Linked DNA regions of Homo sapiens: region 2 is linked to region 1. Evidence: fine-mapped expression QTL. Tissue or cell type: whole blood. Region 1 holds a variant in brackets; the other region holds the start of a gene. All regions are shown on one strand. Distances are from middle to middle.

The links. PIP is the estimated chance that this variant, and not a neighbour inherited with it, causes the effect.
Region 2: it holds the start of WDTC1, and the variant in region 1 is fine-mapped to the expression of WDTC1 in whole blood (TOPMed, PIP above 0.99).

The regions. Positions count from the first base shown.
Region 1 is chr1:27,337,336-27,345,167 of GRCh38, forward strand. It overlaps SYTL1 (synaptotagmin like 1), which reads left to right and starts at 4,687. Exons shown (of 15, transcript NM_001193308.2): 1 at 4,687-4,815. RefSeq lists enhancers at 4,308-4,567, 5,098-5,147, 5,322-5,939, 5,938-6,027. The variant A/G (reference allele first, on the strand shown) is at 4,922.
Region 2 is chr1:27,231,192-27,239,023 of GRCh38, forward strand. WDTC1 (WD and tetratricopeptide repeats 1) reads left to right here and starts at 3,441. Exons shown (of 16, transcript NM_001276252.2): 1 at 3,441-3,760. WDTC1-DT (WDTC1 divergent transcript) reads right to left here and starts at 3,238. Exons shown (of 3, transcript XR_947117.2): 1 at 3,071-3,238; 2 at 2,254-2,411. RefSeq lists silencers at 3,261-3,320, 3,521-3,670, 3,861-3,910, 4,071-4,120.

The DNA of each region.
Region 1 (7,832 bases):
TTGGCCAGGCTGATCTCGAACTCCTCAGGTGACCCACCCGCCTCAGCCTCCCAAAGTGCTGGGATTACAGGCATAAGCCATTACGCCTGGCCCCAGCAATTCCATTTTCAAAAACCTGTTTTGCATATTGGGTCCATCCGAGAGTTGGTTGAGGGGGGACAAATTCAATACTGAAGACAGGCCGGTTGCGGTGGCTCACGCCTGTAATCCCAGCACTTTGGGAGGCTGAGGCAGGCGGATCACGAGGTCAGGAGAGCGAGACCATCCTGGCTAACACGGTGAAACCCCGTCTCTAATAAAAATACAAGCACTTAGCCGGGCATGGTGGCGTGCACCTGTAGTCCCAGCTACTTGGGAGGCTGAGGCAGGAGAGTGGCATGAACCCGGGAGGCGGAGCTTGCAGTGAGCCGAGATCGCGCCACTGCACTCCAGCCTGGGTGACAGAGCAAGCCTCCGTCTCAAAAATAAAAATTAAAAAATAAACCAAAGACAGCCACAGTAGAATAGATAGAAAAAAGGCTTAAGGCCTGCGTTAGCCTAGCAGAATTTAAAATTTGCCTGGGGGAAACAGGACATAAAATTGTGCCATAGAAGTCACCAACAGGGTCAGCCACAGTGTCCAGCACTTTGGGAGGCCAAGGCTGGAGGAGGGAGGGAGCCCAAGAGTTTGAGACCAGCCTCGGCAACAAAGTGAGACCCCATCTCTACAAAAAATTAAAAAATAAAATTAGCTGGGCATGATGGTGCGTACCTGCAGCCCCAGCTACTACTCAAGAGACTGAAATGGGAGGATAGCTTGAGCTCAGGAGGTCAAGGGTGACAGAGCAAGACCCCGTCTCTCCCTCTCTCTCTCTCTTTTTTTTTGTTTTGTTTTTTTTTTTTTTTTTGAGATGGAGTCTTGCTCTTGTCACCCAGGCTGGAATGCAATGGCATGATCTCAGCTCACTGCAACCTCCGCCTCCCGGATTCAAGCGATTCTCCTGCCTCAGCCTCCCGAGTAGCTGGGATTACAGGCGCCTGCCACCATGCCCGGCTAATTTTTGTATTTTCAGTAGAGACAAGGTTTCGTCATGTTGGCCAGGCTGGTCTCAAACTCCTGACCTCATGATCCGCCTGCCTCGGCCTCCCAAAGTGCTGGGATTGCAGGTGTGAGTCACCATGCCCGGCCTAAGGCCCCGTCTCTTAAAAAAAAAAAAAAAAAGTCACCAACAGTTAGCGAGTGCTTACTCTGTGCTAGGCCTTGTAATAAAATACCATCTTAGCCTCACAACAGCCCTGCAACAAGGTAAGTGCCATCATCCCATTTTACAGATGAAGAAGTAAGCAGAGAAGTAGTGATTTGCTCCGGGTCACAGAGGTAGGAAGAGTGGAACTATGGTTCAAACCCAGCAGCTGGGCTCCAGAGCCCCCACTCAGAGCCACCCTGTGCGATGGCCTCACTGGAGCACAGGAGTGGAAATGAGAGGTGCTGTGATGCGAAAGGAGAATGGCCGCGGAGGTGAAAAACAAGCTCTCCTGACAGCAGCAGGCCTGTGAGATGGCTATTGTCCCCACTTCATAAAGGAAGAGAGTGAGGCTTACAGGGATTGTCATTGATCCCAGGCCACAGGGAACCATGCGGCAGAGCCAGATTTTAACCCAGATCTGCTGGCCTCTAGGACCCTGCCTCTTAATGTCCCTCTTAACAGAGGGATGTTGCCTAGAGACTGGCTGCAGCGCAGGGGCACTGAACTCTGGAGGAGGCTGAGCTAGTCCTGGAGCTGGGGAAAAGTATTCCCACAGGGAGCACAGAAGGCCCAGGGGTGTTGAAGGACAGGAAATAGCCCACAGCTAAGGCTCTACGGGTATAGGTGACGAAGGGGAGAAAGCCAGAGTAAGGGCAGCAATCCTGAGGGTCAGGCTGAGGGCCAGGCTGTCCTGGGAAGTGGTGAGACTTCCATCTCAGGACGTGTCTAAAGGGGACTGGACTGGTTTAGAAATGTATGAATGGGCCCGAGGGATGGCCTGGCTGTCTGCTGGCACCTTCCAAACCAGAGGATGACAAAGAAAAGTACGTTTGAAAGTTGTGCAACATAGGGCCAGAGTGGCCTTGTGTGGCCGCAAGGAGGCAGGAGAAGAGGAGGCTTCCAGAAGAGGCTGAGCGGGGACTGAGACCTGGGCAGGGGGAGGACAGCAGAGACACACAGATGGGAGGGCACCTGGAGTGAAGTGTGGACAGCATCTGGAGGTGGCAGGAAGCAGCAGGAGGCCAGGGGCCAGGATGATGGGGGCTGGTTACAGAGGTGGAAACTTGGAAATAGGTTTCAAGTGGGGAAGAGGCCAGAGGAATGCAGGTTGAGACACAGCAGGAGAGATGGCTGGAAGTATCAGCGTCAGGGAGTCACAGCTATAGGAAGGACAGGAGAGCAGAGAAAGGAAGGGAAATTTAGAAACCCGAAGACCAGATAATGAAGTTTCATGCCTTCCAGGAGGAAGAGCTGCTAAGGAGGTGAGAGGAGGGCAGAGAAACATCCTTGGGGGCGCCAGGACCAGGATGGCAGGAAGGGGTGTGGATGTTCTTGGCCACTCTCCTTCCATTTTGAGGGCCTTAATGAAGGAGGCAGCATCACAGTAATGGTCCCACAGCAGCTGCTCCATGGGTATTGCATGTGTGGGTGCATAAATGCATTAATCAAGAGTACTGGGGTCTGGGCAAGGTGGCTCACGCCTGTAGTCCTAGCACTTTGGGAGGCTGAGGCAGGCAGATCACATGAGACCAGGAGTTCGAGCCCAGCCTGTCCAACATGGTGAAACCCCATCTCTACTCAAAATACAAAAATTAGCCAGGCGTGGTGGCGGGCGCCTGTAGTGCCAGCTACTCGGGAGGCTGAGGCATGAGAATCACTTGAACCCAGGAGGCGGAGGCTGCAGTGAGCCAAGCCAGCCTGGGCGACAGAGCAAGACTCCATCTAAAAAAAAGAAAAAAAAAAGTCTGCAAGGATCTCACTGAATTTTAGTGAAAACCCTCTAAGGAGAGATTACCCCCATTTAACAGATGAGAAAAATAAGATTAATTTGCAAAAAATAAGTAGGGAAGCCTCCACTGTGGTTCTGAGGTGGAGGAGGGTCCTCTGTCTCTCAGTGGTGGTGGGAGTCGGTTCTGATTACAGGAAGGAAGAGTGGGTGTTTAGTTTTCTTTTCTTTTCTTTTCTTTTTTTTTTTGTGACGGAGTCTCGCTCTGTCGCCCAGGCTGGAGTGCAGTGGTGCGATCTCGGCTCACTGCAAGCTCCACCTCCCAGGTTCATGCCATTCTCCTGCCTCAGCTACTCGGGAAATAGCTGGGACTACAGGCAGCCGCCACCACGCCCAGCTAATTTTTTTTGTATTTTTAGTAGAGATGGGTTTTCACCGTGTTAGCCAGGATGGTCTTGATCTCCTGACCTCGTGATCCACCCGTCTCGGCCTCCCAAAGTGCTGGGATTACAGGTGTAAGCTACCACGCCCAGCCTTGTTTGCTTTTCTGAGACGGAGTCTCGCTGTGTTGCCCAGGCTGGAGTGCAGTGGTGCGATCTCGGCTCACTGCAACCTCCGCCTCCTGGGTTCAAGCGATTCTCCTGCCTCGGCCTCCCGAGTAACTGGGACTGCAAGCACCTGCCACCATGCCCGGTTAATTTTTGTATTTTGAGTAGAGACGGGGTTTCACTATATTAGCCAGACTGGTCTCAAACTCCTGTCCTAGAGTGATCCGCCCACCTCGACCTCTTAAAGTACTGGGATTACAGGCATGAGTCACTGTGCCCAGACTGGTTTTGTTTAGAATCCACCCCTTGTCCTGCCTCTCCCAGGGGTCTATGAGGAGCCCACTAATCTTTAATCCATGGCCCTAGGTTCAGGGGAGGGGGTTGGGCCAGGGCAGGCCATGGGAAGTGAAGTGGACTTGGGGGGAGTCAGAAAGCTTTGGTGTGGCCTCTTGTGCCCAAGACAACCCAGGAGGTTCATGGTCCTGAAGCCAATGTAATCTAGGGCCCAAACCTTCTAATCTCAGGGTGGGCAGAATCTAGGTGTAGAATGGGGTGAGTTCAGGGGGGCTCCACATAGACAGAGGGTGTGGGACCCTCACCTTGGCACTAGAAGAGTTCAGGCCTCCTCAAACAGATGGGGCTCAGGACAGCAGAGGGGACAGAGAGGGCTGCTCTGCCAGCATGTCCCAGAAGTGCATGTGGATATAGAGGGCAGCAGCTGCTGAGATGGCCGTGGGCATTAGGCTATGCTGGAGTGGGGACACCTCACCCCGACTATGCCAGCTCGCACCGGGCACTTTCACTTCCCTTAGTATAGGCTCCTTGCACTCTGCTACCCACAGTTTGCATCAGAAGAAATGGAAGAGACCTGCTTAAGGTCACATCACACACCCACTGGCAGAGCAGGGACTCTGCACAGGGTGGTCTAACTGCAAAGTCTGCCATCCTGCCATTCCCCTTGGGGCTGGAAAAGAAAGGTTTCTAACTTGCTTTCAAAGCGAGTTCCTATCAGCCCCGTTGTGGGCAAGGTGGGGCTGCTACCCGTTCTAGAGGGCCTGCTCAGTGGAGCTGGGGCCAAGCTGGGCCTCTCCAGTCGGCTGCGGGGGCGCACCCCCGGGCGCTGGGAGTCCAGGCCCGGTTTTGCATCAGGCCCTGCCGAGGTGTTTCCTCCTCCTCCGTGTGGGGCAGCTGCTGGCTGGGCTGCCTGTTGAGTCAGCCTTCTTCCCTCACGGCTCTTCTCCCGGTCCCTGAAACTCGGCTGCCAGGGGAGCTGGAGCCACCTGCGAAGGTGTCCTCCCATACTGGACCCCTACAGGTAACACGTGTCGGTGCCAGGGTCCCCTGCCAGGGTCCAGAGACGCAGGCACTGCCACCTGGTATCCTGAGCACCCTCCAGCACCTTGGGGTTGGGGGAGGTGGGC[A/G]CATGTCTGGAACTGGAACAGCTGGACAGATGGACAGACCCTCCTCTTGACCAATGGGTCTGTCCCACCGTGTCAAAACAGCAGAGAAGACCAAACTCCTACCTAACTCTGGTAGGAGATTCTGCCTCTGGTTGGTAGGAGAGGGGACTTCAGGGAGGGGGCACTGCTGAGGACGCTGGGCTGATGCCCATGGCCCAGCTCAGGCAGGCCTGAAGGACAGAAATAGGCTCAGTTCTGCCGAACGTCCCCCCGGCCTCCATCCACACTCAGACACACACACCTGGTGGCCCCCAAGGCACCAGGGGACACCCCACAGCACACAGCCCAGTCACACATACAGCACAGGAGGAAATGCACAATGCATACTGTACACACCCCACACGGCGCTGTCACCTAGAAAGTCACTGAACACACCACACAGACAATATAGTCACCATGCAGCATCACACTGCAACAGGACACAAAGACACACAGCAACTACACAGCTCACAGACTCACGCAACGCAGACATGCCCACCAGACTCGGACCCACACAGCCACACAACAGGGCACAGAGAGGGACGTGGGCTCACACCCCAATCCACAGGGGAGGCCGAACGTGGGCTCACACCCCAATCCACAGGGGAGGCCGAACGTGGGCTCACACGTTGGCCACAGAAGTCCAGGGAAACTGCTGTTGTGGAGCACACAGGTATCCACAGAGTGAATGCACACCGTGCAGCCGTGCTGAGGCCTTCTGCTCCTGAGGGTGTCAAGAGGGATCGCTGGGGCTCGGCCACTGACTCAGCTGGGAGGGGACAGAGCATAGCAGGCGGCGGACACAAGCCAGGACCTGCCCGCCAAGCTGCCTCCGCCGGTCTCAGCCCCACCTGGAGCCGTGGCAATGGAAGGGGCGGGGAAGAGAGGAGAGGCCGCCCAGTGGGCTCAGGACACAGCCCTGACCAAGTCATGGGCCCCTTGCCACGTCTACATGCCCCTCAGCGCTGGGCAAATGCTTTCTTTCCGGAGTCACTGTGGTACCTGAGCATGGGCTGCTGCGCTAGCCTAGGCCTCCACCGCCGGGACCCCAGCCTGGTCTGGGGAGAACTGTGTGGCCAGAACAGAGGGGCCCTGTGGCTCCAGGCAACAGGGCAGGGCTGGCGGCGGGGGCATCCCTGGGTTGGAGGCCTCCGTGGGAGTGGGTGCGGCAGTTACCTCAGGAGAGGAAGTTGGGGGTGTGGGCTGAGGAGGAGGTTGCCTCAGACAGGAAGGCCAAGTGGGCCAGGGCAGGGTGGAGGTGGTGGCAGGAGGGGACCCAGGCTGTGAGGTTCCTGGTGCGGGGGAGTGAGCAGATGTGTGTGTGTGTACGTGTGTGTGTGTGTGTATCTGTCTGTCTAGGTGGGTGGTTGTATGTGTGCATTCCCATGTGTGTGCAGGCATATTTCTGCATTTAATTAATCAAACTTTTACCAACCATCTGTTGTGTGCAAAGTAATGGCTTTGAGGGTGACTCCCTCTCCCTGCCTCCAAGGAGCTCACAACCCAGTTAGCCGGGCAATGTATGTGTGCCAAAGTCTGTATGATTTTTATGTACATCTTTATCGAGGGACATATTTGTCCCCAGACTTGTTCTTGTCTAGGTGAACCCATCCGGGTGGGCCTATCCCCATTGGTGTGCATATGCTGTGTGCAGGTTTTTTTGTTAGTTTTTGTTTTGAGACGGAGTCTCACTCTTGCCCAGGCTGGAGTGCAGTGGCGCCATCTCAGCTCACTGCAACCTCCTTCTCTTGGGTTCAAGTGATTCTCCTGCCTCGCTTCCCAAGTAGCTGGAATTACAGGCATGTACCACCATGCCCAGCTAATTGTTCTGTTCTTTTCATTTTTTTTGGAGGAGTTTCACTCTTTTTGCCCAGGCTGGAGTGCAATGGTGTGATCTCGGTTTACCATAACCTCTGCCTCCCAGTTTCAAGCAATTCTCCCACCTCAGCCTCCCGAGTAGCTGGGATTAAAGGCATGCACCACCATGCCCGGCTAATTTTGTATTTTTAGTAGAGACGGGGTTTCTCCGTGTTGGTCAGGCTGGTCTCAAACTCCTGACCTCAGGTGATCTGCCCGCCTTGGCATCCCAAAGTGCTGGGATTACAGGGGTGAGCCACTGTATCTGGCCATAATTTTTGTATTTTTAGTAGAGAAGGGGGTTTCACCATGTTGGCCAGGCTGGTCTTGAACTCCTGACCTCAGGTGATCGGCCCACCTTGGCCTCCCAAAGTGTTGGGATTACAGGCGTGAGCCACCGCGCCTGGCCACTGTGTGCAGATTTAAGAACATGTGTAGGGCCGGGCGTGGTGGCTCACGCCTGTACTCCCAGCACTTTGGGAGGCTGAGGCTGGCAGATCATGAGGTCAGGAGTTCGAGGCCAGCCTGGCCAACATGGTCAAACCCCGTCTCTACTAAAAATACAAAAATTAGCTGGGCGTGATGGTGCGTGCCTATAATCCCAGCTACTCAGGAGGCTGAGGCAGGAGGTTTGAACCCGTCAGGCAGTGGTTGCAGTGAGATGAGATCGTGCCACTGTACTCCAGCCTGGGCAACAAAGCAAGACTCCTCAAAAAAAAAAAAAAAAAAAAAAAAAAGAATGTGTGTGCATGTCTCTCGTGGGCATGGGTCCGGGTCTGTGTCTGCAGAGGGCCCTTTCTGGGGGAACAGCTGTGCATGCGCCTGTCTTTATGCAGGTGTCTGTGTGCATGTGCGACCATATCTATGCCTACATGGACCCGCGTGTGCACATGTGTCTGTGTGTTCCATCGCTGCAGTCCTGTGTGGCCCTACCTCAGGGTGTGTGCATGTGTGTCTCTTGCTTCTTCCACTGTGTCTCCAAGTGTGTTCAAGGGCTAGTGTATGCATGTGTGCATGAGTGTCTCTCACCCCACCT
Region 2 (7,832 bases), 110 kb before region 1:
GTTGGGAGAAGCAAATGAGTTAGTGTGTGTTAATGTATATGGGTGTGTGTGCGTGCGTGTACACATATGTATGTATAGATTTATGTATAGGTCTCTGCCTATATGGAGAGAGAGGAAGTGAGAAAGAGAGAAACTCAAGCAAGTGTAAGAGTACGAGTGGTATCTATTAGAAAATAATAAATAGTAACTGCAGTTGTTAATAGTCTTCTTCCTGGTGGGGCGAGGTGGCTCATGCCTCTAATCCCAGCACTTTGAGAGGCCAAGGCAGGTGGATCACCTGCGATCAGGAGTTTGAGACCAGCCTGACCAATTATGGTGAAACCCTATCTCTACTAAAAATACAAAAATTAGCCGGGCGTCGTGGCATGTGCCTGTAGTCCCAGCTACTCGGGAGGCTGAGACAGGAGAATCGCTTGAACCCAGGAGGCAGAGGTTGCAGTGAGCCGAGATTGCACCACTATACTCCAGCCTGGGCGACAGAGCAAGACTCCGTCTCAAAAGAAATAGTCTTCTTCCTGTCATCAGTCTCTACCAACGAAAGTTCATTCTGACAACAAATATTTACTGAGTTTCTGCTATGTGCCATAGACTGTGCTAGGAGTCACAGAAACATCACCCACTCTTCTCTATCAGTATATCTAAGATCCTCTGTGACCTTGCCAGCATTAAACAAGACTTTAAAATGGGGGTTCTCTGGCCGGGCGCGGTGGCTCATGTCTGTAGTGACAGCACTTTGGGAGGCAGAGGCGGGTGGATCACGAGGTCAGGAGATCGAGACTATCCTGGCTAGTACGGTGAAACCCCGTCTGTACTAAATGAAATGACAAACTGGTGGCGGGCGCCTGTAGTCCCAGCTACTCGGGAGGCTTAGGCAGGAGAATGGTGTGAACCCGGGAGGCAGAGCTTGCAGTGAGCAGAGATTGCCCCACTGCACTCCAGCCTGGGCGACAGAGCAAGACTCTGTCTCAAAAAAAGAAGAAAAAAGTGGGGGGGGGGGTGGTCTCTGCCAAAAACACAGGATGCTAAAATGATTTAAAAATGAGGGTTCTGGATTTGAATAGTGTAGGCTTTAATCCCAACTGTACCACTTCCTAGCTATGTGATTGTGGGAGTCTGTCTTTCTTTCTTTTCTTTTTTCTTTTTTTGAGATGGAGTCTCTCTCTGTTGCTCAGGCTGGAGTGCAGTGGCACGACCTCGGCTCACTGCAACCTTCGCCTCTAGGATTCAAGTGATTCTCCTGCCTCAGCCTCCTGAGTAGCTGGGATTACAGGCACGCGCCACCACGCCCGGCTAATTTTTGTATTTTTAGTAGAGACGGGGTTTCACCATGCTGGCCAGGCTGGTCTTGAACTCCCGACCTCAGGCGATCCACCCGCCCTTGGCCTCCCAAAGTGCTGGTATTACAGGCGTGAGCCACCGCGCCCGGCCGGGAGTGTTTCTTTTTCTTTTACTTTTTTTTTTTTTTTTTTTTTTGAGACGGAGTCTCGCTCTGTCGCCCAGGCTGGAGTGCAGTGACGCGATCTCGGCTCACTGCAAGCTGCGCCTCCCGGGTTCACGCCATTCTCCTGCCTCAGCCTCCCGAGTAGCTGGTTCTACAGGCGCCCACCATCACGCCCGGCTAATTTTTTTGTATTTTTAGTAGAGATGGGGTTTCACCGTGTTAGCCAGGTGGTCTCTATCTCCTGATCTCGTGATCCGCCCGCCTCTGCCTCCCAAAGTGCTGGGATTACAGGCGTGAGCCACCGCGCCCAGCCCGGGAGTATTTCTTAATTCACTAGTAGCACTTATCTCCCATGGTAAGTATTCAATAAATGTTAGATATTATTCAGTTTAATTAACCCAATGACCCTAACCAAGGTTGCAGCCTGAACCTGGGGAGCTGCAGATAGATGATCTCAAAGCTTTCTTCTAGTCCCAAAGTCTATGATTTTTTATATTCAGTAGAACAGCTGTGGTGGAGAGTTCAGGGGGAATGACCCACAATATTTTTAGGAGAAAGGCATAAAAGGCTTTGTGAGCGGTTTCACAAGGATAGGTTCTTACTCCTCTAAATGGGGAGAAATCTCCCTTGCGGAGAAATCACCAGCAATTAGAATACTACCTTTGTCTCTGGGAGTATTCAGGTATTCACAGACAAATTCGTACTCATGATGTGAGCAGAATTGGAAAAAAAAAAAAAAAAAAAAAAAAAAAACAAGCGACACATGGAGTGATAAACACTATAAATGCCAAATACATATATTCAGTCCTTACTGAGAGCGGGTGCTGTCTGGTTTTCACAGGAAAGACAGGCAGTGTTAAAAGGCTCAGACTCTGGTGTCAGGCAGATCTGGGTCTAATTCCCAATTTGCCAACTTATCAGGACCCCGGGGGCAAGTTGCTTTTAGCCTTTCTGCTTCAGCTTTCCTTTTCTGCAAAACACAGACAGCAATAGTACCTAGCTAAGAGACTGTACCCAATCCAGTGCGAATAAAAGTGAATTATTGTTAGTATCTGACAAATGGCACCCTATGGGTGACAAGTTTCCTTTGTCAGAAGGTGACACGTCTTCCCTTTCTGACTTGAGGTTTCACGGGTGGGGCCTGGTCTCTGCCTTAAGAAGATAGGCTTAGTGCCACCCTTGTCACCTTGGGAACTTCCTTAATAAAGAGGAGGGTCTCTCCTCCATCAGACCCGGGACTCCACAAGGCTGGAACTGCGTCTCTTCCTCAGAGGTGGGAGCAGCAGTGACTCCGCTAGGGTCAGATGGACCTAGTCGCTCCCATCACCCCGAGGGCACCCAGAGTGTGTGTGGCTGACTCCTCTCCAGGCTACTCAGCGTAGGCCCGATTCTCTTTCATTCTCTTCCTTAAGGCCCAGGAGACGTCAGTGAGGACTGTGCCACTTCAGCAGCCCCCCAGAGCAGGAAGGAGTGGGCTGAGGAGCCCCCCGGGGCCCTAGCCTGAGAGGTCCCAGAATTCGGGGGCTGAGAGGAAGTCTTAGGAGCTCTTAAGGGGCTGTGAGGGGACCTGGGGTTCAGTGGGCGAGCGTGTGGGCGGGTGTCCCAGAAGCGGTGTGAGGAGCGTTTTACCCGGTGGTGGGGTGGGAGGTGCGTCCGGGTAACTAATGGCAACCGGGCGGGGTGAGCCCGCTCTGCAGGAACTCCTCGACGGCGAAAAACTACGACTCCCAGGGTGCCCCAGGGCTTAGCCCAGCTTTCCCGCCCGCCCACTGGCTGCCGGTCCCGCAAGCGGCGAAGCCCATTGGCCACGGCGGTGCGGGGCTCCCCCACTAGCAGGTTAGTGGGCGCCGCCGGCAGCAGACGTTGACCGGGCGCGGGGGGGTAAGTGGGGGGGCCCGGCTAGCCATTCTGGAAGCGGCCGGGCGCAGTCTTCGTAGCGTACCCGCCGGCTGCGAGGCGCAGGGCGGAGGCGGAGACTGCGTGGCGCAGGCGCGTTGCTGGGCTTCTCCTGGGTCCCCAGACAGCTGGAGGAGATAAACAGAGGAGGAGGAGGGAGGGGAGTGCGTGTGTGAGAGCGCGCGAGGGAGTGTGAGTGTGTGTGAGCGCGGGTGTGAGGCGGTGCGCAGGGGCGGGCGGAGGCGCTGTCCGGCCCCGGCCAGGCGCCGGGCGGGGAGCATGGGAAGGGGCTAGAACTGCTCGAGCCCCCCAGCCCCCTCCCCGGGATCCGCGCCCCCCTTCCCGGGAGAGGGGCCGCCCCCCCCGGACGGACATGGGCTCCTGAAGTTGCGCCGCTGCCGGTCGGGGGAAGAGACCTGACAGGTACGGGTCACCGCCGCCCCCTGCCCTCCGCGGGCGCCGAGGCGGGGACCGGCTCCCGCAGCCCCGGTGAACGGGCCGCCCGCTCTGGGCCGGCTCCAGCCCTGCCGGCCTGGGGGCCTGAGCCTACCCGCCTCGGGGCCCCGGGTGTCCCGAGAGGGGCCAGGCCTCGCCGGGGCGGAGGGCAGAGTGGTCCGGGGGCGGGGTGGGGGCGGAGGGTTTGGTCGGGACGCGGGGGGAGGCTGTGGGAGTCCGGGGAGGCTCTGCGGAGGGAGAGGTGGAAGTCATTCCATCATGGGACTTTTTTGCGGAGTTTTTGTTTGACATCTGATCTGGCGCCGGAGTCAGGAAGAAGGGGCAGGTGTAAGTGCTGGGAGGGCAACGCCGACCTGACCTGCCCTCTTAGCTTCTCGCTCTCTCTCTTTCTGTTTTTCTCTCTCTCTTTCTGTGTGTGTGTGTGTGTGTGTGTGTGTGTGTGTGTGTGTGTGTCCACAGCAGATGCCTTCAGTGGCCCATCCTGGCACCAAACAACTCTGCCAAGGTGTTTCCACCAGGCGACTGTAGCACCCCGTATACAAAGGGCCTCTGCTTGGGAACGGGCTATTCAGTACCCACTTCAAAGGGTAAATAGGAAGTGAGGAGATAGAAGAGAGACTGCGAACCAGCAGGATCCACTTCTTGGACTGAAAGCCGCAGTGGGACGCCCCTTTGCCAGATTGGTTGACTTTGCTTGGTGGCTTGGGCTCTCTCTCCTCTGCGGGTGTACTCCCAGGGTTTCTAGAGGAGAGGTACAGGGGCCTGTAACTAATGTCTTAATAGCCGAATTTGACTGTTTTCCCCAGAGTTCTTTTCTTCTGTGACTTTCTTTAACCTCCTGAAGTACTGGTAGAGCAACGTTATAGTTTTTCTCTCAAGTTGGTGATTTTAGGAGCCTGGTAGGGTGGCTGAAGCTTCCCCATTCATTCCAAGGATGGGGTAGATGATCTGGGTAAAGTGGCAGTGAAGTCTTCCCTTTCTAACAAAGCCTGAAACCGTTTTGAGAAGAAACTATTTTGAGGGCAGCTTCTGACTCAAAGACGTTACGAAATCCCCACCTAGGACACCGGTATGCCCAGTGGTCCCTACTAAGCTTTTCTGTGTCTTTTAGAGTCGTTGAGTGGCCAGCTTCTGCTCACTGTACTGAAGGAACTACTTAATGCTATTTCTGTCTTGAGTTCTGGCTTATTCTTCCTTGTGATTCTTATATCTTTAGCGGGATTGAATTGAATTTTTGCTGTTGAGTGTAATAGCCAGATCCTCTGTAACAGACCAGGGAGTAACTAGTTGGGCTCCTTTGGGCCAAGTCTGAGACTTACTGAGGTTTCTTCATTGTAGGTTGTTGTATTTCGTTGGCAGGTGGGAAATGACCTTTTCCGTCATAGTTTGTGATCATGCTGCTTTAAGGCTGGAGTCCTGCTCTCCTTTCCTTTTTTGACCTATATGGGAGCACTTCTGTTCGAGTCTTATCTCAATTTGAAGGAACAGTGCTTTTGGATCAACTCTGCCGAATAATTGAGCAGTAGCCCATATTTCTGCCTGGGACACCTTCATTGAGGGTCACGAGGGAAAGAGAGAACACGTGTAAATATTATGATGATGATGTTAACAACTATTTACCAGTTTCATACAATTGACAGTTTTTTTTAGCCGGGAGGAGTTCAGTATTGACTCATTGGGCATCTTATGTAGGGTGTTTTTGCACACCTAGACTTTAGGATCTGGAAAGACAACTGAAAATCTTGAAGCCCACTGCCAAACATTTGTGGATCTTGGGCCAACTGCTAAGGAAGATCTAGACTATGACTTGGTCTTTAATTATTTTTATTTTTTTCTCCTTTATGTATGTATGTATTTATTTATTTATTTTTTGAGATGGAGTCTTGCTCTGTTGCCCAGGCTGAAGTGCAGTGGCGCGATCTCAGCTCACTGCAACCTCAGCCTCCTGGGTTCAAGCAATTCTCTGCTTCAGCCTCCCAAGTAGCTGGGATTGCAGGTGCCTGCCACCATGCCCAGCTAATTTTTGTATTTTTAGTAGAGATGGGGTTTCACCATCTTGGCCAGGCTGGTCTTGAACTCCTGACCTCGTGATCCACCGACCTCGGCCTCCCAGAGTGCTGGGATTACAGGTGTGAGCCACCGCACCTGGCCTCTCCTTTTATTTTTATTTTTTTGAGATGGGGTCTCACTCTGTTGCCTGGGCTGGTCTCAAACTCCTGAGCTCAAGGGATTCTCGTACCTCTGCCTTCCTAGTAGCTGGGACTACAGACACGGCCTCCGTGACCACTCTCTTCTCTCTTTTTAAAAATTAAGGAATGTTGCTGACATGTGCAGTTCTGAGTCTCAGAGAGGAAGTCAAACAGAACATGTAATCTGGTGATACTTGTGTTTTCTTTGGGTCACTGGTTTAGTTATCTATTCTGTTTCCTTTCTTCTTTCCACCTCACCTTTCCAGATGCTCCACTGTATCTTTAGGCTGCCATTGCAGATTGCTGGGCCCACAAAACCCTTAGGTTGTACTTTCTTAGCTGTCATCTCTTGAAAAGCCAAAGTTCTGGCAGTTGCTATTAGAAACCAGTTCCTGGCTGAGCGCGGTGGCTCACGCCTGTAATCCCAGCACTTTGGGAGGCTGAGGTGGGCAGATCACGAGGTCAGGAGATTGAGACCATCCTGGCTAACACGGTGAAACCCCATCTCTACTAAAAATACAAAAAAAATTAGCCGGGCATGGTGGCACGCGCCTGTAGTCCCAGCTACTCAGGAGGGATTTTCCTACTAAGGCAGGAAAATCGCTTGAACCCAGGAGGTGGAGGTTGCGGTGAGCTGTGATCGTGCCATTGCACTCCAGCCTGGGCAACAAAAGTGAAACTCCATCTCAAAAAAAAAAAAAAGAAAAGAAAAGAAAAAAAAGAAAGAAGCCAGTTCCTTGGTGTAGTTAATTTACTTTGAGAGGTATTTGCCAGTTGGGATATGTCCTAAAAAGTGACTGACATTTTATTCAGGGCCTGGTATATCTTGAGCTCAGTGCTAGCTAGTATTTTTACTTTATCCAGTGTAACCTTCATGACTGTCCTGTGAGGTGAGAATCATTTTCCCTATTATACCTATGAAGAAACAGATTCAGAGAAATTAAGTTATTTGCTTAAGGTCACACAGCAAGTAAGAGGAAGGACTGGAATTCAAACCCAGGTCTCTCTGCTCTGTGATATTGAATTGCCTCTGGGACTGTGACACATGAAGAAGAACTGAAAAGACCAAGGCTAAGAGCCTGGGGGAACATGATACCTCATTCAAATACTTGAAGATTGTCATGGGGAAAGGAAACTGGATGTTCTCTGTGATTCTAGAAGGCATCTCAGGATTAAATGACATAATTTCCAAGAAGGTAGACTTTGGTTTGATAGGAGATAATGTAGCTTTCTAAAAACAAAATGGGCTGCCTTGTGAGGGAGTGAGTTACCCATCATTGCAGATATTCAAGCAGAGAGTTTGCCACATCTTTTTTTTTTCTTTGAGACAGAGTCTTACTTCGTCATCCAGGCTGGAGTGCAGTGGCATGATCTCAGCTCACTGCAACCTCTGCCTCCCAGGTTCAAGTGATTCCCATGCCTCACTTCATCTTCCAGGCTGGAGTGCAGTGGCATGATCTCGGCTCACTGCAACCTCTGCCTCCCAGGTTCAAGTGATTCTCATGCCTCAGCCTCCCAAGTAGCTGGAATTATAGGCATGTACCACCACGCCCATCTAATTTTTGTATTTTTGTAGAGATGGGGTTTCACCATGTTGACCAGACTGGTCTTGAACTCCTGACCTCAGGTGATCCGCCCGCCTCAGCCTCCCAAAGTGCTGGGATTACAGGTGTGAGACACCGCGCCCAGCCCCGGCTAATTTTTTTGTATTTTTATTAGAGACAGGGTTTTGCCATGTTGCCCAGGCTGGTCTTGAACTCCTGAGTTCCACCTGCCTCGGTCTCCCAAAGTGCTAGGATTACAGGCATGAGCCACCGCTCCTGGCTTTTTTTTTTTTTTTTTTTTTATGA